Linked DNA regions of Homo sapiens: all the other regions are linked to region 6. Evidence: fine-mapped expression QTL. A gene starts in region 6. Each other region holds a variant in brackets. All regions are shown on one strand. Distances are from middle to middle.

Region 1 (4,102 bases), 57 kb before region 6:
ATCTATGATTTCCTTCTTGCTACAATGGCAGAGTTGGGACACAGAATTTAAGGCCCTCAAAAACCTTTACAGAAAAGGTTTGCAGACCCCTGATCTAAGTAACAGGTAGTGTATCTAGGGCCCATCGACAGTCTTTCAAATTGATGGAAACAAATGAGGACAATTCAGCCTTAACAATTCACCTGCATCAGAGATGGACTGAAACTGGCATGGGTAGTATTGGTGGAAAGCTGCCAGTGTTTGAGATTTAACAGTCCACATGAACAGAAAAAACATCCCACAGAATCCTGGGAGATAGGCCTTACCCTGGTTCTGGTGTGAGTCACAAAGATCTCTAGCTCAACTGATAATGCCTGAAGCTAAGCTCCCCATACCCTTGATGAGCGGTGACCACACATAGTACATATGTTTTAGCTCAACATAAAGACATTTCTAGAAATTGGCCAGGCACGACAGCTCACACCTGTAATCCCAGCACTTTGGGAGGCTGAGGCGGGTGGATCACCTGAGGTCAGGAGTTTGAGACCAGCCTGGCCAACAAGGTGAAACCCTGTCTCTACTAAAAATACAAAAATTAGCCAGGCACAATGGGGTATGCCTGTAATCCCAACTACTCAGGAGACTGAGGCAGGGGAATCACTTGAACCTGGGAGGCGGAGGTTGCAGTGAGCCGAGATCGTGCCATTGCACCCCAGCCTGGGCGATGGAGTGAGATTTCGTCTCAAAAAGAACCAAAAAAAAAAAAAAAAATCCAAAAAAACCCAATACCCAAATCAAAAAGGAAAACTTACTAAAATCATAAAACTAGTTTTCTACTCAAATCTTTATTTAATGAGATTTGTGTTTCACAGCAGGTAGAGAAGCTCAACCATTTTTTTGAGCAGTAAAGCCTCTAATTAAGGCAGGCATGATTAAATCTCTGAGAAAGGAAATGCAAATAGAAGCAAAATTCACATGATAACTGGTTTCTCCTGGGTCAGCTGGCTTGTTCCATGGCTTTTTTTCTTTTTCTTTTTTTGAGACAGAGTCTCACCCTGTCGCCCAGGCTGGAGTGCAGTGTCATGATCTCAGCTCACTTCAGCCATGACCTTTCAGGCTCAGGTGATCCTCCCTCCTCAGCCTCCCAAGTAGCTGGGACCACAGGCACGTGCCACCATGCCCAGCTAATTTTTTGTAGAGATGGTGTTTTGCCATGTTGCCTAGGCCGGTCTCCAACTCCTGAGCTCAAGTGATCTGCCCACCTCGGCCTCCCAAGGTGCTGGGATTACAGGTATGAGCCACACGCCCAGCCTTTGTTCCATGTTTTCATACTTACTTCAACCCAGTGCTAATAAAGTCTGTAATAAATGTCAAGAGTTACATCTAGTGACTCAGTAAGGCCAGATAAAAATAAAAAAAAGCAGAGAGGAAAAAAAAAAAAGAAAATAAAAAGGAGTAAGATCCATCATACACACAGCACCATGCCAGATGTTACCGTCATCTGAACTCACAGGAAGACCTGAGGGTAGAAATCTATTTTCCTCCAAACAGGGAATGGGAACAAGAGGCAGTGATAACTCTGACAACATACATTCCATTTCTCATTCAAGCCAGGACTGCAGGTGCATGCCACCACGCCTGGTGATTTTTTTTTTTCACTTTTTGT[T/TA]AAAAAAAGCTGAGGTCTATGTTTCCCAGACTGGTCTTGAACACCTGGTCTCAAGTGGTCTTCCTGCCTTAGCCTCCCAGAGCACTAGGATTACAAGTGTGAGCCACTGTGCCCAGTCTGTACTAGCTTTTACACTGAACCATCAATTCTTCTGAAAAGAAAGGAAGGGAGAGAGGGAGGAAGGAAGAAGAAAGGAAGGAGGTAGGAGAGCAAGGTGTGAGCGTGGAAGAGAGGAATAAAGGAATTAACACCATGTAATGGCTGGCCAGAAGGAAGTGGGCTGCCAAAGATATTTCATCAGTAAAGGCAAAAATTAATTCCTGAGGAAGAACTGGCTTTTTGAATGATTTAGAAAGACCCGTGCACCTGCCACTCCTCGGAATGAGGACTTCTGGGTGTGCATCTCTTCAAACCTCTACTAGGCCTATTTCCTCCCGGATTCTACTCAATGAACATTAGTGGTAAGGAACTTCAAGTCCCCTGAAGCAAAAACAAGTTTTTGCGGGAAAATTCCATTTAAGTGCTTTGATAGAGACCACTTATTACACTCAAATCCATCTGAACCCACCTTCTTTTAGACAACGACAAACAGAAAGCAAGAAACAGATGAGGATGTAGATGAGGAAAAACATTTGAGGTTAATTCCTGTGAATTCAGGTGGTGTTATTAAAGTAGTCCAAGTGTGTTTAGTAGATCAATTAAGAACATTCAGTTATACAGTTTTAAGCTTACTCATTCCCAAACAGGTTTTCTATGAAGAAGAGAAAACCCAACATTCAATGCCAACATCAGTGCTTAGCGGCTTGCCATCTACAACATCCCAATGCTGTAGTCAGCATTGCTACAAAGCTCTAAGAGGACCGAGAGGAGACCCTGCAGCAGATCTCTTCTTTCTACATTGTGCACGTTATGTACCTCCAAAGCCAAGGCTGTCTTGTCGTAGGCATTGGGGACTCGCTTCTGGATAACCCTGGCATATATGGGCCCATTCTGGAGGTTAGGGAGCGGAGTGTTGACGCTGGGTTGGGCATAGGGCCCAGGCTCCGGCCCACCCAGTGGCTGTGGGTGGGAACCCTCCTGGTTACCTCCAATCAGAGCCGATACTGAGGCGGAGGCAGGTCTATACTTCTCGACGTAAGGGACTGGAATCATCCCTCTCTTGCCTTCGCTGTCCTCCGCATTCCACCACTGCTCTTCAGGCTTGTCCCGGATTCTCAAGATGTCTCCTTTCTTAAAGGGAAGATCTTCCTCATCATTCCCATTAAAGTCAAAGAGGGCTCGCACATACTCCGCCTCCTCCTGCCTGAGAATCACTCCACTACCCTGCCTGGATCTGGAAACTGGTTCTATCAACGTTGTAGTGTCCAAATAGTGTATTTTGTAGAATTCCAGTAAAGCAGGCAATGAATCAAACTCTTGATCTCCTATTCGGAGTCTGGAGGGGCTCACCCCTGGAAAAAACAGAGCAGGCTGTTATTTAATGATGTACTACACTGGAAATGAAATGCAGATTTTATTTTTATTTTTTTTAGAGTTGGGATCTCACTATGTTACCCAGGCTGGTCTTGACCTCCGGGGCTCAAGTGATCCTCTCACCACAAACTCCTGAGTAGCTGGGACTACAGGAGCCCACCACTGTGCCTGGCCGAAATGGAGCTTTCATGCATGCCTCATACACATTTAGTCAAGATTTAATCAGCAAAAAAAACTCTAGAAAAAATAACCCCTTCTCTTCACAGCACACCAACATCACATTTGGAAGCTGAAACATCCCCTGGGAAGAAAGATGCCCATCACTACAGCCCCAGGGAAGGATGAGGAGGCCAGGAGACTAGGCTGATCAGGACGTGCTCTCATACTTGATCAACGACGGGGGCTTTCACTGCATTCTCCAAATATGTTCTGTCGCTACCCCATTTACAGAGCAGTGTAAGCCTCAAGGTTCTGTTGCATGTTTTTTTTTTTTTGAGACCAAATCTCACTGTGTCGCCCAGGCTGGAGTGTAGTGGCGTGATCTCTGCTCACTGCAACCTCTGCCTCCCGGGTTCAAGCGATTCTCCCGTCTCAGCCTCCTGAGTAGCTAGGATTACAGGCTCCCACCACCATGACAAGCTAATTTTTTTTTTTTTTTTTGTATTTTTAGTAGAGACGGGGTTTCACCATGTTGGCCAGGCTGGTCTCAAACTCCTGATCTCAGGTGATCCACCCACCTCAGCCTCCCAAAGTGCTGGGATTACAGGTGTGAGCTACTGCGCCTGGCCTGCATCTACTTTTCAACCTCAGGAAATGTAGCAAGCTCTTGTTTTTCATGGGTCCCTGCTGCTGTTCAGAAGGTGGAGAGAGCTTGTGTCTGCACTGAGCTCACACATTTTTTCTCTTCACATCTAGAATGTATAATTCCGAAGAAGAAAAACTATCTCTTGTTGTGGTTTTCGTTGTTTTTGGGACAGAGTCTCG
Region 2 (4,102 bases), 36 kb after region 6:
ATGATCCACCTGCCTCAGCCTCCCAAAGTGCTGGGATTACAGGTGTGAGCCATCGCACCCAGCCCATTACTTCAGTCTTACAATGATCTAAGAATGCTTATTTCCTGTTTCCTGGGGCCTACACGACATGAGAGATTTATCTGATGTTTGTGGTGTTCCTCAGATTTAGCCAATGTAGGCTATACATACACATATAATATGGCTGAAGAAAATGTGTATGTGAAAATAGGAAAATAGAAACTTCAATCCTGGTTGGTTGGTTTGTTTTGAGATAGAGTTTCGCTCTGTTGCCCAGGCTGGAGTACAATGGTGCGATCTCAGCTCACCGCAATCTCTGCCTCCTGGGTTCAAGTGATTCTCCTGCCTCAGCCTCCCGAGTAGCTGGGATTGCAGGCGTGCACCACCACGCCTGGCTAATTTCTTGTATTTTTAGTAGATGGGGTTTCTCCATGTTACTCAGGCTGTCTCAAACTCCCAAGCTCAGGTGATCCACCCGCCTCGGCCTCCCAAAGTGCTGGGATTACAGGTGTGAGCCACCGTGCCCAGCCCTGGTTTGTTTTTGTTTTTAACAGTGGTTTCCTTTAGGGAATGAGGCCAGGGGCTGAAACAAGAAGACTTTTATTTATGTATTCACCTATTAGTTATTTGGACTTCTATTTTTAAATTTTTTTTCTATCTTTTGAAAATCATTTTGACCATTAAGTATGAAATACACCTTTGATCTAAAAAAATAGTAAAGTGTCAATGTTAATATCCGAGTTATTACATTGTACTATAGTTTTGCAAGATGTTACCATTGGCAAAAACTGGGTAAAGGGTACATAGATCTTTCCACGTTATTTTTTATAACTGCAAGTGAATCTTTCAATCATTTCAAAATAAAAGGTTCGGTGCAGAAATGAAGCTGGCTGGGTGTGTTGGCCCACGCCTACAATCCCAACACTTCGGGAGGCTGAGGTGGAAGGATCACTTGTGGCTGGGAGTTTGAGACCAGCCTGGACAACATAGCAAGATCCTGTCTCTACAAAAATTAAAAAAATTTTAAAAATTAGGTAGGCGTGGTGGCCTGCACCTGTAGTCCCAGCTACTTGGGAGGCTGAGGTGGGTGGATCAGTTGAATCCAAGCGTTTCAGGCTGCCATACTCCAGCCTAGGCAACAGTGTGAGACCCTGTCTTGTTCTGTCGCCAAGGCTGGACAGTGCAGCAGCATGATCTCGGCTCACTACCATTTCTGCCTCCTGGATTCAAGCGATTCTCCTGTCTCAGCCTCCCAAGTAGCTGGGATTACAGGCACACACCACCACACCTGGCTGATTTTTGTATTTTTAGTAGAGACGGGGTTTCTCCATGTTGGCCAGGCTGGTCTGGAACTTCTGACCTCAGGTGATCAGCCCAACTTTAGCCTCCCAAAGTGCTAGGATTACAGGCTTTTGAGCCACCGTGCCTTAAACTGTATTTAAAAAGAAAACAGGGCCAGGTATAGTGGCTCATGATGGTAATCCCAGCACTTTGGGAAACCAAGGTGGGAGGATCACTTGAGACCAGTAATTCAAGACCAGCCTGAGCAACATATTGAGATCTTGTCTCTAAAAAAATTAGTCAGGTGTAGTGGTGGGACCTGAAGTCCTAGCTACTTAGGAGCTTAACGTGGGAGGATCACTTGAGCCCAGAAGTTGAAGGCTGCAGTGAGCTATGATCACAGCACTGCACTCTAGCCTAGGCCACAGAGCGAGACTGTCTCTCT[T/TA]AAAAAAAAAAAAAAGAAAAGAAAACAAAGCTACTTCCATAATTGGGGATGTTGGCTGATGTTCCAGATGGTCTGCAATCACTGCCAGCAGGTTGGAGGGAATTAAGACTCCCTGAGTGGCTGGGCATGGTGGCTCACACCTGTAATCCCAACACTTTGGGAGGCCGAGGCAGGCGGATCACCTGAGGTCAGGAGTTCAAGACCATCCTGGCCAACATGGTGAAACCCCATCTCTACTAAAAATACAAAAATTAGCTGGGCGTGGTGGCGCACACCTGTAATCCCAGCTACTTGGGAGGCTGAGGCAGGAGAATGGTGTGAACCCGGGAGGCAGAGGTTGCAGTGAGCCGAGATTGCGCCACTGCAGTCCAGCCTGGGCGACAGAGCAAGACTCCATCTCAAAAAAAAAAAAAAAAAAAGAGAGAGAGAGACTCCATGAGGGCAGTGTCATCCTTCACATATAGGGATCCTGCAGCCTCTGCAGCTCCTATGAAAGTTTTAGAGGCTGGGCATGGTGGCTCATGCCTGTAATCCCAGCACTTTGGGAGGCCGAGGCAGGTGCATTGCCTGAGCTCAGGAGTTCGAGACTAGTCTGGCCAACATGGTGAAACCCCCTCTCTATTAAAAATAGAAAATTAGTGGCGTGTAGTGGCGGGCGCCTCTAGTCCCAGCTACTTGGGAGGCTGAGGCAGGAGAATTGCTAGAACCTGGGAGGTGGAGGTTGCTGTGAGCTGACATTGTGCCAGTGCACTCCAGCCTGGCGCCACTCCACTCCAGCCTGGGTGACACAGCAAGGTTCTGTCTCAAAAAAAATAAAATAAAATTTTAGATTCTTGGCTGGGCACAGTGGCTCACAACTGTAATCCTAGCACCTTGGGAGGCTGAGGCGGGTGGGTCACCTGAGCTCAGGAGTTCCAGACCAGCCCGGGCAACATGGGGAAACCCTGTCTCTACTAAAAATACAAAAATTAGCCAGGCGTGGTGGCGGGCACCTGTAGTCCCAGCTACTCAGGAGGCTGTGACATGAGAATTGCTTGAATTGGGGAGTTGGAGGTTGCAATGAGCCAAGATTGCACCACTGTACTCCAGCCTGGGTGACAGAGCGAGACTCTGTTTCAAAAGAAAAAAAAAAAAAGAAAACAAGTTTTCTTAACATTTTTTAAGTGAATTCTCTTTTCTGAATCTCATTATCTAAAGAGTTAATGGCCAAAGGCCAAGAGGTACTTGTTCAGTGAATTATAAAACGTCCTCAACTTCTGTGAGCCACAGTTTATCTATAAAATGAAACTAATACCTGTGTTACAGGTTGCCATGAAAACTGGGTGATGTAATACATGTGAAACTCTTAGCATACGTGATAGGCACACAGGAAGTCCTCAATAAATGTTAGCTTCTATTAATAATACAAATATTTTTATTACTACCATATTTGGGAGACAGTGAGTTCCCCATTACAGGCAGTAATCAAGCAAAGGCTGGTAGGGAAGCTTCAGAGAGTACTCAAGCACTGAACATATAATTGGACCAAATGACCTTTAAGATACCTCCTTCCATTTTTCAGATTATGGGCCTCTTAAGAGAGTAAGAGCTTGGGAAAGGGAGAAAAAAGGCAAGTTGGGGAGAAAGAGAGAGACAGAAACTGCTTTCCTACAGGCACATAGTTCCAGAAATTTTTTCTTTTTAGGGCGAAGAACTAATCTCTCGATGCCTTGCTTCCCAAATCTTCAAGCCTCATTCAAGAATGGTGGGTCCGCCCGGACAGGGACTAGAGTTACAGCAGTGATGACTGTGGCCTTGCAGTGACCCTTCATCACTCACAAACAAAATCTGCCTGCACTAGACGACTATGTACTGGCTTAGAGACTAACAGTCATAATTCCTATTCCAAGTGTGCAGTTCATCACGGTGCATGGAAGACAGGCATCTATCTCTATTCCTCCCCCAAACCCTATGACATGACAGTAAAGGAATTTAAAAAGATAAAAACTATGAAGACAACAGGAACAGAGGACACCACAGCAGGTAAGAGCCAGTTAACAACCTTTTGGGAGATGGAAAAAGGACAGAAGAGTCAGTAGCTAATTTGCAGAGCAGCAAAAGCTGAACCTAAGTGCCTGGAGGATGGAGAGCGGAGAAGGAGCTGCAGGTTCTGCAAAGGCTCAGGAACTGGAAGCACCAGGTCCCGCTGCAGATGGGAGTACCAGGTGTGGCTCAAAACTGGTGACTTTTTGAAAGTCCAAATGGAGAACGGTTAGGAACTGGTGTTCCCTTCTCCTGCTCTGGAAGTCAAGCAACCACCCTCCTTTCCTTCACAGCAAAAGCCAGGAGGTTCACTCTCTGAAGCGCTGAGGGAACCCT
Region 3 (4,102 bases), 50 kb after region 6:
CCTCGTCCCCAGTCTAGTAACAGCCACCTCTAAGAGATCCTACATACAAACATCCATGTGCGTGGATTTTTCTTTTAATATGAAGGGCGGCATGCACACACCTTGTTTCATAACTTCCATCCTTCACTGAACAGTCAACTTGAAGACTGCTCTCTATTGGTTTTTCCATGGCTGCAAGGATGTCACTATTTGGCTGAACCACAATGCATTTAACGTTGTCCTACTAACGGGCCTTTTTTTTCTCTTTTTTTTTTTTTAAGACAGTGTCTCGCTCTGTCACCCAAGTTGGAGTACAGTGGCGTGATCTCGGCTCACTGCAAGCTTCGACTCCCGGGTTCACGCCATTCTCCTGCCTCAGCCTCCTGAGTAGCTGGGACTACAGGTGCCCGCCATGAAGCCTGGCTGTTTTGTATTTTTAGTAGGGACAGGGTTTCACCGTGTTAGCCAGGATGGTCTCGATCTCCTGACCTCGTGATCCGCCTGCCTCGGCCTCCCAAAGTGCTGGGATTACAGGCGTGAGCCACCGCACCCGGTCTAACGGGCTCTTATGTTGTTTTTTTGTTTTTGGAGACAGGGTGTCACTCTGTTGCCCAGGCTGGAGTGTGGTGGTGCAGTCACAGCTCACTGCAGCCTTGACTTCCCAGCCTCAAATGATCCTCCAGCCTCGGCCTCCAGAGTGGCTGGGACCACAGGCACATACCACCATGCCCAGCTAATTCTTTTTTTATTTTTGGTAGAGACAGAGTCTTGTTATGTTGCCCAGGATGGTCTTACATTGTTTTTGATCTTTGGCTACACAAAGAAGACTGCAATGAGTCTCCTTGTATATATGTTATTTCACACATGTGAAAATAACTGTCTAAATTCTTGGGCATGGAAATGCTAAAGGATAGGTGTATTTTATTTTTTGGGAGTTACTGCAAATTGTGCTCTATAGAAAACTGTAATTTTGGTCTTTTAAAGATATAGCTCCCATGTACCAGGAACTGCACCAATCCAAGCAGTACGAGAAGGCCCCATAAAAAGTTCCGGAGATCACATTTTGCAAATCAGAGACATAGCAATCCCATGCTGGTAAGATAGGTCTAGGCAGAGGCCACTGCCTTCCCGGCCAGGCAAAAGAGGACCACAGAGAGGACCCCATGGTAGCCCTGGAGAGGCTACAAGGCAGAGACTCAAGACCTCACCCCTGGGGCTTTTGGGAACTACTACTCACATTCTCCTGCGTGCCAAGATCTGGTTTGTGCCAGGTTTCAATTTTAATCAGAAAGTCTTCTTTCATGTACTCATTCTGGAAGAAGGAAAAAAAATACATGAAAGTCACTAGGTTCACAGTTGAGAGTAACCATCTCCCATTACTGGAGATGGGCATTACTGGATCATGGGCAGCTAGGAGATTCCAGCCTCTGCCTTGTAATAACAGTTAACTTGACTGGGAGCCCACGACACACTAGGCATGTATTATCCCATTCAATCCTCACCCCAGCCTGAGAGCTCTGTAGAATCACCCTCATTTTACAGATGAGGTTCAAAGAGGTTAGGTGACTTAACCAAAGTCACAGAGATCGGGCCAGGCATGGTGGCTCACGCCTGTCATCTCAGCACTTTGGGAGGCCGAGGCGGGCGGATCACTTGAGGTCACAAGATCGAGACCAGTCTGGCCAACAGTGGTGAAACCCGTCTCTACTAAAAATACAAAAATTATCCAGGCATGGTGGCGGGTGCCTGTAATCCCAGCTACTCGGGAGGCTGAGGCAGGAGAATCGCCTGAACCCAGGAGGCAGAAGCTGCAGGGAGCCGAGATTGCACCACTGCACTCCAGTCTAGGAAACAACAGCAAGACTCCGTTTCGAAAAAAAAAAAAAAGTCACAGAGATCACGACAGAGTTGGGTCTCAAAACAGTTTCGTCTGACTTCAGAATCCAT[G/A]CATTTAGCCACTCTGGGTAGTAAGCAGTGTGGAAAGAGCACAGAAGACTTCCTAACCCATCGAAGATACTCACCATGGCCCCTTTCCCTCCAACTAGCCTGTGGCTAAGGCCTTAAGTTTTCTTCTCAGTAACTGAACCCTTCAAGCTAATTATTGCCTCCCTCCCTCCCTTCCTGCTTCTTAAAAATTGGAACTTCTCAAAGGAGGAACACATTCACCCATTAACGCCTCAGCAGGAACCAGTTTCCCAGAGACAGCCAGTGTTTACCGGCAGGGACAAGGCACTCAGATGAGTGTGCTGAATGGTGGGCGGGTGGGCAATGACAGAGGGGACGGCTGTGGAAGAGAAACCCCGCTGACTTCACGACTTTGCCAAGGATCAGTGCTCAGTGGACTCAACAGATGCACAGATGGGGAAGGGATGTCGGTCAGGTCAGTTGAATGGAGCTCTCTCTACAACCTTGAAAAGGTGTGACCTGGGGAGGCAGGGCCTCGAGCCACTGTGTCCATGTCAGACCCACAGCCAGGATGCACTTAATGGAGCCGCAGGCCAATGCAGCTTAAAGCAGGAGGTCATCATGCCAGTTAACAGGTTCCTTGTTAGTCCACTGACAGGACTGAGCCTCAGCAACTCCAAACATCAGCCAAGGGAAAGAACACCCAAGACCACCAGTGCAGTTACATTTTTCTCTCTCCTGTTCTTATACATCATCTACAGTTCCAACCCCCTTGACAATACTTACTGTAATAACTGCTCCGAGGCAAGGACATGGAAAGAAGAGAGAAAAAGATTAATGAAGATGAAGAAATATCTGCCCCCCACCCCCCACAAGGAGGACGAATGGCAGAGTGTACTTTACTCCCTGTGGCTTATTCCACGGTCACCTCCAAGCCCCAGTGAGTCAGAAATACCTTAACGCACCAACCCTCAAATTTCACTCAGACAAACATCCCAAAAAACCAAACAGGGAATTTAATTAAAGCGACGCCGCTATGGGCTTCTTGGGATTCTTTTCAGCAGGGCACTGACAGGGACCAGCTCTGATCAGCAGAGGTGCCGCAACTCATCACTCTGGCATCAGAGCGTTCTCCGGCGCCTCCCACCCCTACCCCAGCCTCTACCTCCCGGGGCACAGAGCAGGGTGCTTTGGCCATGCACTGTATCTGCCTCCTGCACCCTTCCTCTCGCTGTAATCAAACCTCCCAGGCTCTGCACTCCTGCTCATTGTAATGGGAACCCCTTAGAAAGCATGGTTCAATTATTTATCAGAGAAAATGACTGCACCTCTCATGTCACTGGGGAACAGACTAGCTCTGCTCCTGAGACCGCCCGGTTCATTCTGTACCCTCTGAATTTAGGACCTATGTCCACTTCTGCTGGCTGCCCCACTGCCATGTTTGTAGAGTGTGTGGGGTAACAAACTCCAGAACTGAAGTTAAGGTGACCCCGGAGCACAAAATGAGGCAAAGTTGAAATATAAAGAGTAAGAGCTATCACGCACAGAAATAACCCAAAAGACTGTCAGTAATTCCCCCATACCCAACGAAAGACACTTAGAAGGAAGCACCAGATTAAGATTACAACTGAAAGGCCTACACTGAAGTAACTGCCCTGTTAGCAGCTTCAAGAAAACCACGTTAGAATAAGAAAAGGAAATCATGGGTATAGTATCTCGTCAGCAGAAATTCTCCTGTGCCGTGGTGGGCCCCGGAGGCCCAGCCCCCGCATGTGGCATCTCTGGCAGCGCCATCCCTGGAGTGGGGGCAGCAGTGCCAGGATGGCCTGGTCTGATGACACCAGCCACTAAACTTCTCCAACTAAGCACCTTTTTTGAATCTATCTCCTCTAAGAAAGTCTCTCCTAGTTCGGCCTCTCCGAGACGTGCTCATCAATGGACCCAAGAATCTGATCACTCAGCCAAGCGGACATTCTTTGCCACACATTGGCATTCTGATTATAATTTGGTTTCTCATGTAGAAGAATCCACAAGAAAAGAATGCCCTGATCATCGAATGGGAATGTCCCGTTTCGGTAGCAATTCTGCGTTTTAGTGTAACTTCATAGACTGGCGCTGGGGTTTTTACACATTCATCTTTGTGAGACCCCGAGAGACAGATCCACTCAGTTCTGACAACCTGGTTTTCCGAAATCATGAGGGTGACAGCCCTTGCTGA
Region 4 (4,102 bases), 75 kb before region 6:
CTGAGGCAGGTGGATTACCTGAGGTCAGGAGTTCAAGACTAGCCTGGCCAATACGGTAAAACCCCGTCTCTACTAAAAATACAAAAATTAGCTGGGTGTGATGGTGGGCGCCTGTAATCCCAGCTACTTGGGAGGCTGAGGCAGGAGAATTTCTTGAACCCAGGAGGCGGAGGTTGCAGTGAGGCAAGATTGTACCACTGTAGTCCAGCCTGGGTGACAGAATAAGACTCTGTCTCGGAAAAAAAAAAAAAGAAAAGAAAAAAAGAAAATACGATCAAGAACCTCACTTTGGCCAGGCGTGGTGGCTCAGGCCTGTAATCCCAGCATGTTTGGAGGCCAAGGCAGGTGGATCCTTTGAGACCAGCCTGGGCTACATAGCAACACCCCATCTCTTAAAAAATAGTAATTTTAAAAAACCTCAAAAATTAGCTGGGGATGGTGGTGTGCGCCTGTAGTCCCAGCTGCCTGGAAGGCTGAGAGGTGGGAGGATCGCTTGAGTCCAGGAGGCGGAGGTTTCTGTGAGCTGAGATCACGCCACTGCACTCCAGCCTGGGCAACAGAGTGAGACCCCATCTCAAACAAACAAAAAACAAAAAAAATCACATTCAGCCGGGAATGGCAGCTCACACAGATAATCCCAGCATTTTGGGAGGTTGAGGCAGGAGGATTACTTGAGCCTAGGAGTTCAAGAGCAGCCATAGCAAAACCCTCATCTCTACCAAAAATTAACAAACTAGCCAGGTGTGGTGGTGCGCAACTGTCGTCCCAGCTATTTTGGAGGCATAGGTGGGCAGATTGCTTGAGTCCCGGAGGTCCAGGCTGCGCTGAGTCCGGGTTGCACTGTTGCATCCCAGCCTGGGCAACAGTGAGTTTTGTCTCTCAAAAGAAACAAACAAAGGGCCGGGCATGGTGGCTCACGCCTGTAATCCCAGCACTTTGGGAGGCTGAGGTGGGCAGATCACAAGGTCAGGAGTTCAAGACCAGCCTGGCCAACATGGTGAAACCCCATCTCTACTAAAAATACAAAAAATTAGCCGGACGTGGTGGCACGCACTGGAATCCCAGCTACTTGGGACGCTGAGGCAGAAGAATCGCTTTAACCTGGGAGGTGGAGGTTGTGGTGAGCTGAGATGGCACCATTGCACTCCAGGCTGGACAACAGAGCAAAACTCCACCTCAAAAAAAAAAAAAAAAAAACAACACTCATCACATTCATTCCTTTTTTCTAAGTATCATAGATTTTTTGCGTGTTTGCTTTTTGAAACGGAGTCTGGTTCTGTCGCCCAGGCTGGAGTGTAGTGGTGTGGTCTTGGTTCACTGCAACCTCTGCCTCCCAGGTTCAAGAGAGTCTCCCACCTCAGCCTCCTGAGTAGCTGAGATTACAGGCATCCCCCACCATGCCCGGCTAATTTTATATTATTTATTTATTTTTGAGACAGTATCGCTCTGTTGCCCAGGCCGGAGTGCAATGGTGCGATCTCAGCTTACTGCAACCTCTGCCTCCCCGGTTGAAGTGATTCTCCTGCCTCAGCTTCCCGAGTAGCTGGGATTAAAGGCACCTGCCACCACACCTGGCTTTTTTTTTTTTTTTTTTGAGATGGAGTCTCACTCTGACGTCCAGGCTGGAGTGCAGTGGCGTGGTCTCGGCTCACTGCAAACTCCGTCTCCCAGGTTCAAGCCACTCTGCCTCGGCCTCCGGAGTAGCTGGGACTCAGGCGTCCGCCACTACACCTGGCTAGTTTTTTGTATTTTTAGTAGAGATGGGGTTTCACCGTGTTAGCCAGGATGGTCTCGATCTCCTGACCTCATAATCCACCCGCCTCGGGCTCCCACAGTTCTGGGATGAGGCGTGAGCCACCGCGCCCGGCCTGCTCTGTTTTTGAGCTTCACTTCTAGATGGCTAAAGGTTCTTTTTTGCCTCTACCTTATCTCCCATTTCACAGTCTTCAGAACATGGGTGGCAACAGCACGCCACTTTCTCCGCCTCTCCCTGTCAAACTTAGCAGGGTTAATGGTTATTTTCACATTTTCTTCTATACCGGCCCCCTCTCATCTTTTCATACCTGTAAGAGGAACAGAATTTAACCTGGAAGTCCAGGTCATAAAATACGACAGCTGGTATGAATACTGTAGACTATATAAAAGAACACGCCATTCAACAGGGTTTTTTTTGGTTTTGGGTTTTGTTTCAGACAGGG[T/TCTTA]CTTACCCTGTCGCTCAGGCTGGAGTGAAGTGGCACAATCTCACTGCACCGTCAGCCTCTTGGGTTCAAGCAACTCTTCTGCCTCAGCGGCCTAAGTGGCTGGGATTACAGGCGCACACCACCACACCCAGCTAATTTTTTTTTGTATTTTTAGTAGAGACAGTGTTTCACCACGTGGGCCAGGCTGGTTTCAAACTCCTGATCTCAAATGATTCCACCACCTAGGCCTCCCAAGTGCGAGGATTACAGGCATAAGCCACTGTACCTGGCCTGCTTTCAGGCCTTTATATGATTCTTATGGTCCCCTCAAATCAGTATTTTATGACTCATACTCATGGAGACCTTTAAAAATATCACCAGGCCAGAGGCCGGGCGCAGTGGCTCACGCCTGTAATTCCAGCACACTGGGAGGCCGAGGCGGGTGGATCACCTGAGGTCAAGAGTTCAAGACCAGCCTAGCCAACATGGTGAAACACCATCTCTACTAAAAATACAAAAATTAGCAGGGCCTGGTGGCGTGCACCTGTAATCCCAGCTATTCGGGAGGCTGAGGCAGGAGAATCGCTTATACCCGGGAGGCAAGGTTGGAGTAAGCTGAGATCACGCCACTGCCCTCCAGCCTGGGGCACAAGAGGAAAATTTTGTCTTGAAAAAAAAAAAAATCACGAGGCCAGGCGCGGTGGCTCACGCCTGTAATCCCAGTACTTTGGGGGGCCAAAGTGGATCACCTGCGGTCAGGAGGTTTGAGACCAGCCTGGCCAAAATGGTGAAACCCCATCTCTACTAAAAATACAAAAATTAGCCAGGTATGGTGGCACGTGCCTGTAATCCCAGCTACTCGGGAGGCTGAGGCAGGAGAATCGCTTGAACACAGGAGACAGAGGTTACAACGAGCTGAGATAGCGCCACTATACTCCAGCCTGCACAACAAGAGTGAAACTCCGTCCCCGCCCCCCACCCTGCGCCCCGCCAAAAAAAAAAAAAAAAAAAAAGGCCGGATACGGTGGCTCATCCCTGTAATCCTAGCACTTTGGGAGGCTGAGGCAGGCGGATCACCTGAGGTTGGGAGTTCCAGACCAGCCTGACCAACATGGAGAAATCCCGTTTCTACTAAAAATTCAAAATTAGCCGGGCATGGTGGCGCATGCCTGTAATCCCAGCTACTCGGGAGGCTGAGGCAGGAGAATTGCTTGAACCCAGGAGGTGGAGGTTGCAGTGAGCCAAGAACGCAGCACTACACTCCAGCCTGGGCAACAAGAGCGAAACTCCATCTCAACAAAAATAAATAAATAAATAATTAAAAAAAAATCTGTGTCTATATATATCACCATTGATTAATCCCATCTTTTTTTTTTTTTTCCCTGAGATGGAGTCTTGCTCTGTCACCCAGGCTGGAGTGCAGTGGCGTGATCTCGGCTAACTACAATCTCCACTTCACAGGTTCAAGTAATTCATCTGCCTCAGCCTCCCGAGTAGCTGGGACTATAGGTGCACGCCACAACGCCTGGCTAATTTTTGTATTTTATTGATTGATTAATTGAGACAGAGTCTCGCTCTGTTGCCCAGGCTGGAGTACGGTGGTGCCATCTTGGATCACTGCAAGCTCTGCCTCCCGGGTTCAAGCGATTCTCCTGCCTCAGCCTCCCGTGCAGCTGGGACTACAGGCGCGTGCCACCACGCCCGGCTAATTTTTCGTATTTTTAGTGGAGACCGGGTTTCACCATGTTAGCCAGGATGGTCTCGATCTCCTGACTTTGTGATCCACCCACCTCAGCCTCCTAAAGTGCTGGGATTACAGGCGTGAGCCATCATGCCCAGCCAGATTTTAGTATTTTTAGTAGAGACGGAGTTTCACTATGTTGGCCAGGCTGGTCTCGAACTCCTGACCTTCTGATCCGCTCGCC
Region 5 (4,000 bases), 32 kb before region 6:
GGTGAGATCGCGCCATTGCACTCCAGCCTGGGCGACAGAGCGAGACTCCATCTCAAAAAACATTGTTTTTCTTTATAGCCGAGCGTGGTGGCACATCCAGCTATAGTCCCAGCTACTCAGGAACCTGAGGCGGGTGGATCACTTGAGCCCAGGAGTTCGAGGCTGTATTGAGCTATGATCATGCCACAGCACTTCAGCCCAGGTGACAGAGTGAGACCACCTCTCTAAAATAATAATCATCATTTTTTTAAGAGATGAGGTCAGCTGGTCGCTGTGGCTCACGCCAGTAATCCCAGCATTTTGGGAGGCTGAGGCAGGTGGATCACGAGGTCAGGAGATCGACACCATCCTGGCTAACACGGTGAAACGCGGTCTCTACTAAAAATACAAAAAAAATTAGCTGGGCGTGGTGGCGGGCGCCTGTAGTCCCAGCTACTCAGGAGGCTGAGGCAGGAGAATGGGTGAACCCAGGAGGCGGAGCTTGCAGTGAGCTGAGATCGAGCCACTGCACTCCAGCCTGGGCGATAGAGTGAGACTCCGTCTCAGAAAAAAAAAAAAAGAGATGAGGTCTTCTTATGGTGCCCAGGTTGGACTCTAATTCCTGGGCTCCAGGGGTCCTCCTTCCTCAGCCTCCTCAGTAGCTGGGATTATAGAGGTACCACTGTGCTGGTCCACAGTCTCGTTTAACTGCTCCTATGTGAATGCTGGGTTTCTTTTTCCTGGAATGTTCTTCTACCCACTTTGGAGTCTCAAATTCAAATGTCTTCCCTTTCTTTTTTTCTTTTTCTTTTTTTTTTTTTTTTTTTTTTTGTTTTTGAGTCGGAGTCTCGCTCTGTCGCCCAGGCTGGAGTGCAGTGGCGCGATCCTGGCTCACTGCAAGCTCCGCCTCCCGGGTTCACGCCATTCTCCTGCCTCAGCCTCCCGAGTAGCTGGGACTACAGGCGCCCGCCACCGCGCCTGGATAATTTTTTTTTTTTTTTTTTTAGTAGAGACAGGGTTTCACCGTGTTAGCCAGGATGGTCTTGATCTCCTGACTTTGTGATCTGCCTGCCTTGGCCTCCCAAAGTGCTGGGATGACAGGCGTGAGCCACCGCACCCGGCCCAAATGTCTTCCCTTTCTTAACCATCCCATCACTCCCTCTCTTCATCAACAGCAGTATGTCCAAATTATTCCCATGACAGCTCTTACCCATTTTACTGTAATTTTTCATTTGCAGTTCTGTGTATGTCCTCAAAGGCCAAGCAGCTAGTCTATGAGGTGCTCCAGAAGCATTCAGGACCGCTAACATTGATTCAGAGATGACCATCTGCCAGGCACAGTGCTGACTGCCTTTGTATGGATCATCTCATTTAATCCTCTCAACAACCTTATTTGACAAGTATCCCCATCTTACAAAAGAGAAAACTGAAGCTCAGAGAGTTTAAGTAATGTGTCCAGAGAGACATGGTCGCAGAGTGAGGAGCTAGGGTTCAAATCCTGGAAGGAGAGACAGCTATGGTCACTCTGCTCTACCCTCAATTTTCTGAGATAGGAATTGGGAGGAAGGGTTGGCAGAAATCTACATTTTTAAAAAAGCAGTAAGCTGTGGATTATGGTCTAA[G/C]GAATAACACAGTCCTGCTGGACTCACCTTACACACCCTTGGGCCTGCTCTGGGGAAGTGGGGGGTGGGGGACTGGGAGGCACAAGGGCACCTTTCCTGCTGCAGGTGACTCATCGTGACCCTGGCTTAGTGACAGCCTGGCACCGTGAGCCAGCAGAAGCAGCCGTCCCAGTGTGAATTCTGGCTGGTCTGTGAGCTCTGGACCTTACCCAGAGACTGCCTGTTCCAAAGCAGTCCCTCTGAGATCCCTCCCTAGGGCATACGGAAATTACAAGAAAAATAATTTTTTTTTTTTGAGACGGAGTTTCATTCCTGTTGCCCAGGCTGCCGTGCAATGGCACGATCTCAGCTCACCGCAACCTCCATCTCCCGGGTTCAAGTGATTCTCCTGCCCCAGCCTCCCGAGTAGCTGGAATTACAGGCATGTATCACCATGCCTGGATAATTTTTTGTATTTTTAGTAGAGACAGGGTTTCTCCATGTTGGTCAGGCTGATCTCAAACTCCCGACCTCAGGTGATCCGCCTCCCTCGGCCTCTCAAGGTGCTGGGATTACAGGTGTGAGCCACCGCACCCGGCCAAAAAAGAATTTTTTAAAGAAGAATAGACCATCCTGGCTAACATGGTGAAACCCCGTCTCTACTAAAAACACAAAAAATTAGCCAGGCGTGGTGGCGGGCGCGTGCAATCCCAGCTACTTAAGAGGCTGAGGCAGGAGAATTGCTGGAACCCGGGAGGCAGAGGTTGCAGTGAGCCGAGATCGAGCCACTGCACTCCAGCCTGGGTGAGAAGAGTGAAACTCCATCTCTAAATAAAGAAATAAAAGAGAACTCTGGGGCACCATGTGAGGGGAACTCCAAGGAGAGTCTTGGGTAGAGACGGAGCGAGGAGCACAGGCAGGATGCTGCGCCTTCCAGGAAAGGTCAGTAAGATGTCCCCACTGGCAATGTGATTCTGGGACCATCGAGAATGGGTTATTTGCTTTGCTGCGTGCAAACTCCTCTCATCGCTGCAATCTTTTAGGGAAGCTGCTCACACAAAGGCCTTCTTGCAGAATCAAGGAGAAGGTACCCATTTCCTCTGCCACTCTTCTCTGCCCCCAGCCTTCTTCCCTTTCCTCTCAGGAGACTCCACGTTCCTCGAGGGCTTTGCCTTGCTGTTCCCTCTGCCTTGACCACTCTTGCTCCAGATCCTAGCCGTCACTTCCTCTCCTCGTTCAGGTCCCCGCTCTGATGTCATCTCCTCTGTGAGGCCTTGCCTGACTGCAAACTACACACCAACACTCCCTCTCCCCTTGTCTGCTTTGCTTATTTTCCTAGCACTTATCTCTTTCTAATATGTTAGGTATTTTCCTTACGTATTGTCTATTCTTTGCTAGAGTGTAAGCTCCATGAGAGCAGGGATTTGGGTCTTTTTGTTGTTCCTGCTATATCCCAAGAGCCTCACTGAGATCCTGGCACATTGCAAGCATTCCTTCAATTCATACTGGTTGAATGGGCCGGGCGCGGTGGCTCATGCCTGGAATCCCAGCACTTTGGGAGGCCAAGGCAGGCGGATCATGAGGTCAGGAGTTCGAGACCAGCCTGTCCAATATGGTGAAACTCCGTCTCTACTAAAAATACAAAAATTAGCTGGGCGTGGTGGCACGCACCTGTAGTCACAGCTACTCAGGAGGCTGAGGCAGAATTGCTTGAACCTAGGAGGCAGAGGTTGCAGTGAGCCGAGATCGCGCCACTGCACTCCAGCCTGGGCGATGCAGTGAGACTCGTCTCAAAACACACAAACAAACAAACAAAAACCTGTTGCCCAGGCTGGAGTACAGTGGTTCCATCTCAGCTCACTGCCACCTCCACCTCCCGGGTTCAAGCAATTCTCCTGCCTCAGGAGGCCAGGTTGGTCTCAAACTCCTGACCTCAAATGATCCACCCACCTCGGCCTCCCAAAGCGCCGGGTTGAATGAAGGAAGGATGAATGGAGAACTGGCGGAAGCTCTTGTCTAGAGCCAGCATTAGCTTTTCCCATAATTGGCAGATATTTCCTGGAGGTCACTGGACTTCCCTCAGGATGTGAGCTGAGGGCACAAACCAGTCCTGGTTACCTCTCAAAAGGTCAGAGTAGGCTGGGCACGGTGGCTCACGCCTGTCATCCCACCACTTTGGAGTGACCACTTTGAGATCGTGCCATTGCACTCCAGCCTGGGCGACAGACTCTGTCACAAAAAAACAAACAAACAAACAAAAAAAGGCGGACGTCTGGGTAATGTCTGTGATGTCATTCTCGCGTGCATTCTGGTTTGCTAGAGAAAGGAATGTCGACACAGTTATAAAGCATGTAATTGCACTTAATACCTATCTTATCTATCAGCTTCTTGGAGGCATCGTTACTGCTGATAAAGTGGAC
Region 6 (4,102 bases):
CCCCTCCCCCCAGGAGGGGGCCTTCGCACCGTCGCCAGCCAGTCCAAGCTTCAGTGCCTGCACCTGCGGCTTCCCCAGCCCGGGGCACTCTCCCTGCCCACCTCACTGAGACTCGGCTCAGGTGTCACCTCCTCCAGAACCCCTTCCTGATTCTCCCAAACACGCAGCGCCTCCTTATCGCACCCCGCAGGAATCAGCTGTTTCCTTGTCAGTCCCTCCCAGGAGACGGCTCCCACTCCCTACACGCAGCGAGGCACACGGTGGGGCTCAGTCACCCCTTCCCGGACCCCTGGATGAATGAATGAATCTCAGAGCCAGGCGTGTGCGCGGGAGGCCGGAGCGTGAGGACTGAGGGCCGCGTGGCCATCCTCCTTCTCCGGCCACCCCGGAGCCCCCCGCCCGTCACACTCGGGGCGCGCTGGGCCCCAGGGGCGGAGAACGGGAAGGGGCGGGTTTAGGCGGCTTCTCCGGAACCCAGAGGCGGAGCAGGGCTGCGGGCGGGGCCCGAAGGGCGCGCAGGGTCCTGGGTCCTGCAGCCCAGGCCGCTCTTCCCCGCCTCCCGCTCCCCGCAGGTAAATCTAAGTCTCCACCAGGCTGCGCCGGCGCCTCCGGGTCGTGGGACCCCCCCCCCCCGCACGGGTCCACGCGGCCGTTCTTCGGCCCCAGCGATCCCCGGCCGTGACCCCTGCCTCGTGCACGGCGGCTCCCGGCCCGGCCGCCCGCTCCCCACACCCGCCCCCCGCGGCCGCCGTCCCCGCGCCCCGAGTACCCACCGGCGTGGCTCTTCCGGCGCGGGCGGGGCCGGGCTGGGCGGCGTGGCGGGCTTGGGGATCCGCGGCCCGGGCGCACTCTCCCCGCCCAGGGCCCGCCGGGGGCCGGGCCGCAGCCTGTCGTCATCCCGGGCAGGGCCGCGCACCCTCCGGCCCCGCCCCGCCCCGCCTCAGCCCCGGCCGCGTCCGCGAAGCCTCGGTGCGTGCGGCCCCCGCCTCGGCCCGTTCCCGGGGCCACAGCGAACACGCGCGCGCCCCTCCGGCCGAAGACCCGGCTCCCCGCCGCGCTGCTGGGGGCGTGGGGGCGCCCGACTTTCTCCCTCCTCCGGGCCCTTTGCATCTCCAGCCCCTTCCTGCGGGCCGGGCCAGGGCCGCGCTCCCCCGTTTCTACCCACCCGTGACCCTTCACCCACCTCCCACACCGTCCTTCTGTTCTGAGTCTTGGGCGGTCCCAGCCCTGCGGACTGGAGAGGAGCGGGGCGTTGACTGAGCCTGGAGCTTCCATGCCCTGGTCCTTCGACCTCACAGCAGCCGGCACTTGCCTTTTGTGCCCAGTATTCACGGTTCTGCCCACTGAGGTTCGGGAAGCCGGGGAAGAGTCAAGCCCAGACCTCCACTTCCAAAAATCCTGCTGCTAGTGGCCCTTGCATCCTTACTCTTCCACTCACCCCGTCTTGTTCAGTCTGTTCTGGCCCCGCCAAGGATCGGAACCCCTCCCCGCTGCTCAGCTCTTGCCCGAGGGCTCGCCTGAGAGGGGCTGCCCGGCCTTGGGGAGACGCTCCCACCCTCCTCCCAGCCCAGAGCATCCCAGCTTACAAGCTTGCAGGGCCTGTGGGGATGAACCACGCGGATGATCTCCCCGGTGGGTACCAGCTCCACTTGCAGCGCCATTCCGCCCTGCGGAGAGCCAGCGGCCTGGGCACCGCGGCCTGTGAGCAAGAGCTGCCTGCCCACTGGCGGGCTCCGACCACTCCGGGACCAGGAACCTACGGTCTAACGCCGGGATGGCCACTTGGTTCTGCTTCAACTGCAGCCCCAGGGGATGTGGCTGGTCCAGCTCCTCAGGACACGGCTGGAGCCGTCCAGGTCTGACTGGGAGGCCTCTTGGCCCGGATGGTTGGAGCAGGAAGAGGAGGGGCTGGGGATGGAGGAAATGCCTGTTGTCCCAGGTAACCAGAGGAGCCGATGCAGCCACCCATGGGGGACCCTGGGCTCCAGGTCAAAGGCTAGGACGCCTTTCCCCTTCCCCCCATCCCCACGGCAGCTCTATGGCTGGGCCCCTCCTCCTGCCCACTCTCTGGTACCACCTAGAGAGCACGGGGCCCACTCCCCAAACCAGACGGCATGCCCTCCCCTAGGCCAAGAGGACCCGTTAGTAGGCACTGGCTTTCCTGCACATCCCCTCAACGGGGCTGCCCCCCACAGCAGGTGAGCCCCCACCATGAGTTTGAGAGACCAGGGCTGCTGGGGCCTGGTCATGCAGGGCCCGGACAGGGGGCTGTCCCGCTGTGAGGAAGCTCTTGGCTTACCCTCCTCTGAGCCTCAGAGCTTGTGAGGTTAGTTCCTGGGTTCCCTGGGTGTGGGCAACCTCTAGCCCTGTTCATCCCTTGCGTTTCAACAGTACCCCCAGGTGACCCCCACCCCTGATGTTCCTGCTTTTCTATTTTTATTGTTGCTAAATCACAGCTGACACTTTCCTGGCCTGAGACTGAGCCCTCCAGTCTCCAGCCATTCCTTATAGGAAGTAAGAACAGGGAAGTGGATAGGGGAAACAGACCTTTCCAGAGGGAGAGGCTGGCATAGGAAGGGCTGAGTCCCGTGGGTGTGTGCTGGCACCGACAGCCCCATAGGCAGGGGCCTTCCCCCCGGCACCCTTCTCTCTCCCCACAGCTTCCCCCGCCCCGGAAAAGCTAGCAAGCCTTCCTTCCTTCCTCCGGGAAGCACATCTATCCAGAGCAGGCTCATCCCCGGCGGCCACACAATGGCCCTTATCAGCCGTGGAGCCAGGCGTAGACCCAGTGCACACCAGGTCTCACTTATTTCCTGTTTCCACCCAGTGGGTCGGGGTGGACCCAGAACGGCCATATCCTGACTGGGGCCCAGAGGACGGAGAGCACCCCCCATTCCCCTTTCCGCCTCTCAATCACTGCTGGGCTCACCCCTCCCACACAGGAGGCTGGGTGTGTGGCGACCTCAGTTCACCACGGGGGAGGTGAGCATGTGGGGGGACCCCTGGGGTCAAGCCCCGGGGCCGCATTAATCAGAACGGGGAGGCGGGTCTAGTGCGATACACTTTCTGCAATTGTTCTCCCACAGTAATCTTGAGAATAGGGACATCATCTGTATTTTACAGACTACTGAGACCGCTCTGCGGGTGGGTTCAGACCCCATTCCTGTTTCTGGTCCTGTGGGAAACCACAGGTGCCTGGAACTTTGAAGAGACTGTACCACTTCTCTGAGCCTTGGCTTTCCCATCTGCCCAATGAAGGGTGCCATGCAGTAACCCTCGTGATGGCTGTGCATGTGAGAAGGAACAGGTGGGCAAGTGAGGGCTTTGGAGGTCCCTAGGTATATGTGTTGGGGGCAGGGATAGGTTACCATGGGGGAAAACTCAGCAAGAAGGGGCTGAGGAGAAGTGGGGCAGAAAGAGAAGATGGTGGCATTCTGGACTGGTTAACGCAGGCAGAAGGCTCAACACCAGGGTATGCAGAGCAGCGGGTCAGGAGGGATGAACAAGAGCTCATTTGACTTAACAGAGTACATTAAGCGGCCACCGGCATAGATGGCATGCTCCACCTGGTTAGGGCCCCAGAGGCTCACCATTCTAGAACCTCATCCTAGCCCCAGTCCTGGCCACTTCTGCAAATCTCAGACACAGAAGTCTAGTTGGGATCTACAGGGTCCCTGTTCCTGGAATCTACAGCTAGTCCCAGGCCCATCACCGTACCCCCACCCCCCAATCATCAGTCACACGCAAGTGTAAAAGCCACGCTAATAATTACCCCTGCACAATGTAACAGTCACAAAACAGCCAGCCATGGCCTGCTGGAAGCCAGGGGACAATTCTTCATACACAGGCTTGCGGGGGAGAGTATGCAACACAGAGCAACTGGAGTAACCCTCAGTCCCAGGACACAGGATGGCAGGACAAGCACTGAGCAGGCTCCCAGAGGTGTCTTCTCCTGGGAAAAGGGCTGCCGAGTGACCATGGCGGAGGCAAGTGCTGGATGTGGGGACAGGCCATGTCCCCAAAGCCCCTAGAGGGTGTTCTCTGAAGAACCCCAGGGCCAGATCCTCCAAAATGTCTTGAGCTGGTTCTCCCTTCTGCCTGC

The links.
Region 1: its variant is fine-mapped to the expression of MYO1C in whole blood (TOPMed, PIP above 0.99).
Region 2: its variant is fine-mapped to the expression of MYO1C in monocytes (Quach 2016, PIP 0.95).
Region 3: its variant is fine-mapped to the expression of MYO1C in whole blood (TOPMed, PIP above 0.99).
Region 4: its variant is fine-mapped to the expression of MYO1C in whole blood (INTERVAL, PIP above 0.99).
Region 5: its variant is fine-mapped to the expression of MYO1C in whole blood (TOPMed, PIP above 0.99).

The regions. Positions count from the first base shown.
Region 1 is chr17:1,434,060-1,438,161 of GRCh38, forward strand. CRK (CRK proto-oncogene, adaptor protein) reads right to left here. Exons shown (of 3, transcript NM_016823.4): 2 at 2,561-3,096. Among named protein-coding and RNA genes, the nearest start is that of CRK-AS1, 12 kb to the left of the region's middle. The variant T/TA (reference allele first, on the strand shown) is at 1,646.
Region 2 is chr17:1,526,994-1,531,095 of GRCh38, forward strand. The region is part of intron 10 of PITPNA (phosphatidylinositol transfer protein alpha); the gene reads right to left. Among named protein-coding and RNA genes, the nearest start is that of PITPNA-AS1, 12 kb to the left of the region's middle. The variant T/TA (reference allele first, on the strand shown) is at 1,745.
Region 3 is chr17:1,540,350-1,544,451 of GRCh38, forward strand. It overlaps PITPNA (phosphatidylinositol transfer protein alpha), which reads right to left. Exons shown (of 12, transcript NM_006224.4): 5 at 2,671-2,678; 6 at 1,217-1,291. Among named protein-coding and RNA genes, the nearest start is that of PITPNA, 20 kb to the right of the region's middle. RefSeq lists an enhancer at 1,835-2,595. The variant G/A (reference allele first, on the strand shown) is at 1,927.
Region 4 is chr17:1,416,090-1,420,191 of GRCh38, forward strand. No RefSeq gene overlaps it. Among named protein-coding and RNA genes, the nearest start is that of CRK-AS1, 6.4 kb to the right of the region's middle. The variant T/TCTTA (reference allele first, on the strand shown) is at 2,199.
Region 5 is chr17:1,458,693-1,462,692 of GRCh38, forward strand. No RefSeq gene overlaps it. Among named protein-coding and RNA genes, the nearest start is that of CRK, 4.5 kb to the left of the region's middle. The variant G/C (reference allele first, on the strand shown) is at 1,602.
Region 6 is chr17:1,490,827-1,494,928 of GRCh38, forward strand. MYO1C (myosin IC) reads right to left here and starts at 1,860. Exons shown (of 32, transcript NM_001080779.2): 1 at 1,587-1,860. The coding sequence starts at 1,661. It overlaps INPP5K (inositol polyphosphate-5-phosphatase K), which reads right to left. Exons shown (of 12, transcript NM_016532.4): 12 at 3,751-4,102. LOC105371483 (a long non-coding RNA gene) reads left to right here and starts at 1,961. Exons shown (of 2, transcript XR_934145.4): 1 at 1,961-2,799; 2 at 3,124-3,868. RefSeq lists an enhancer at 192-911 and silencers at 196-635, 716-1,115.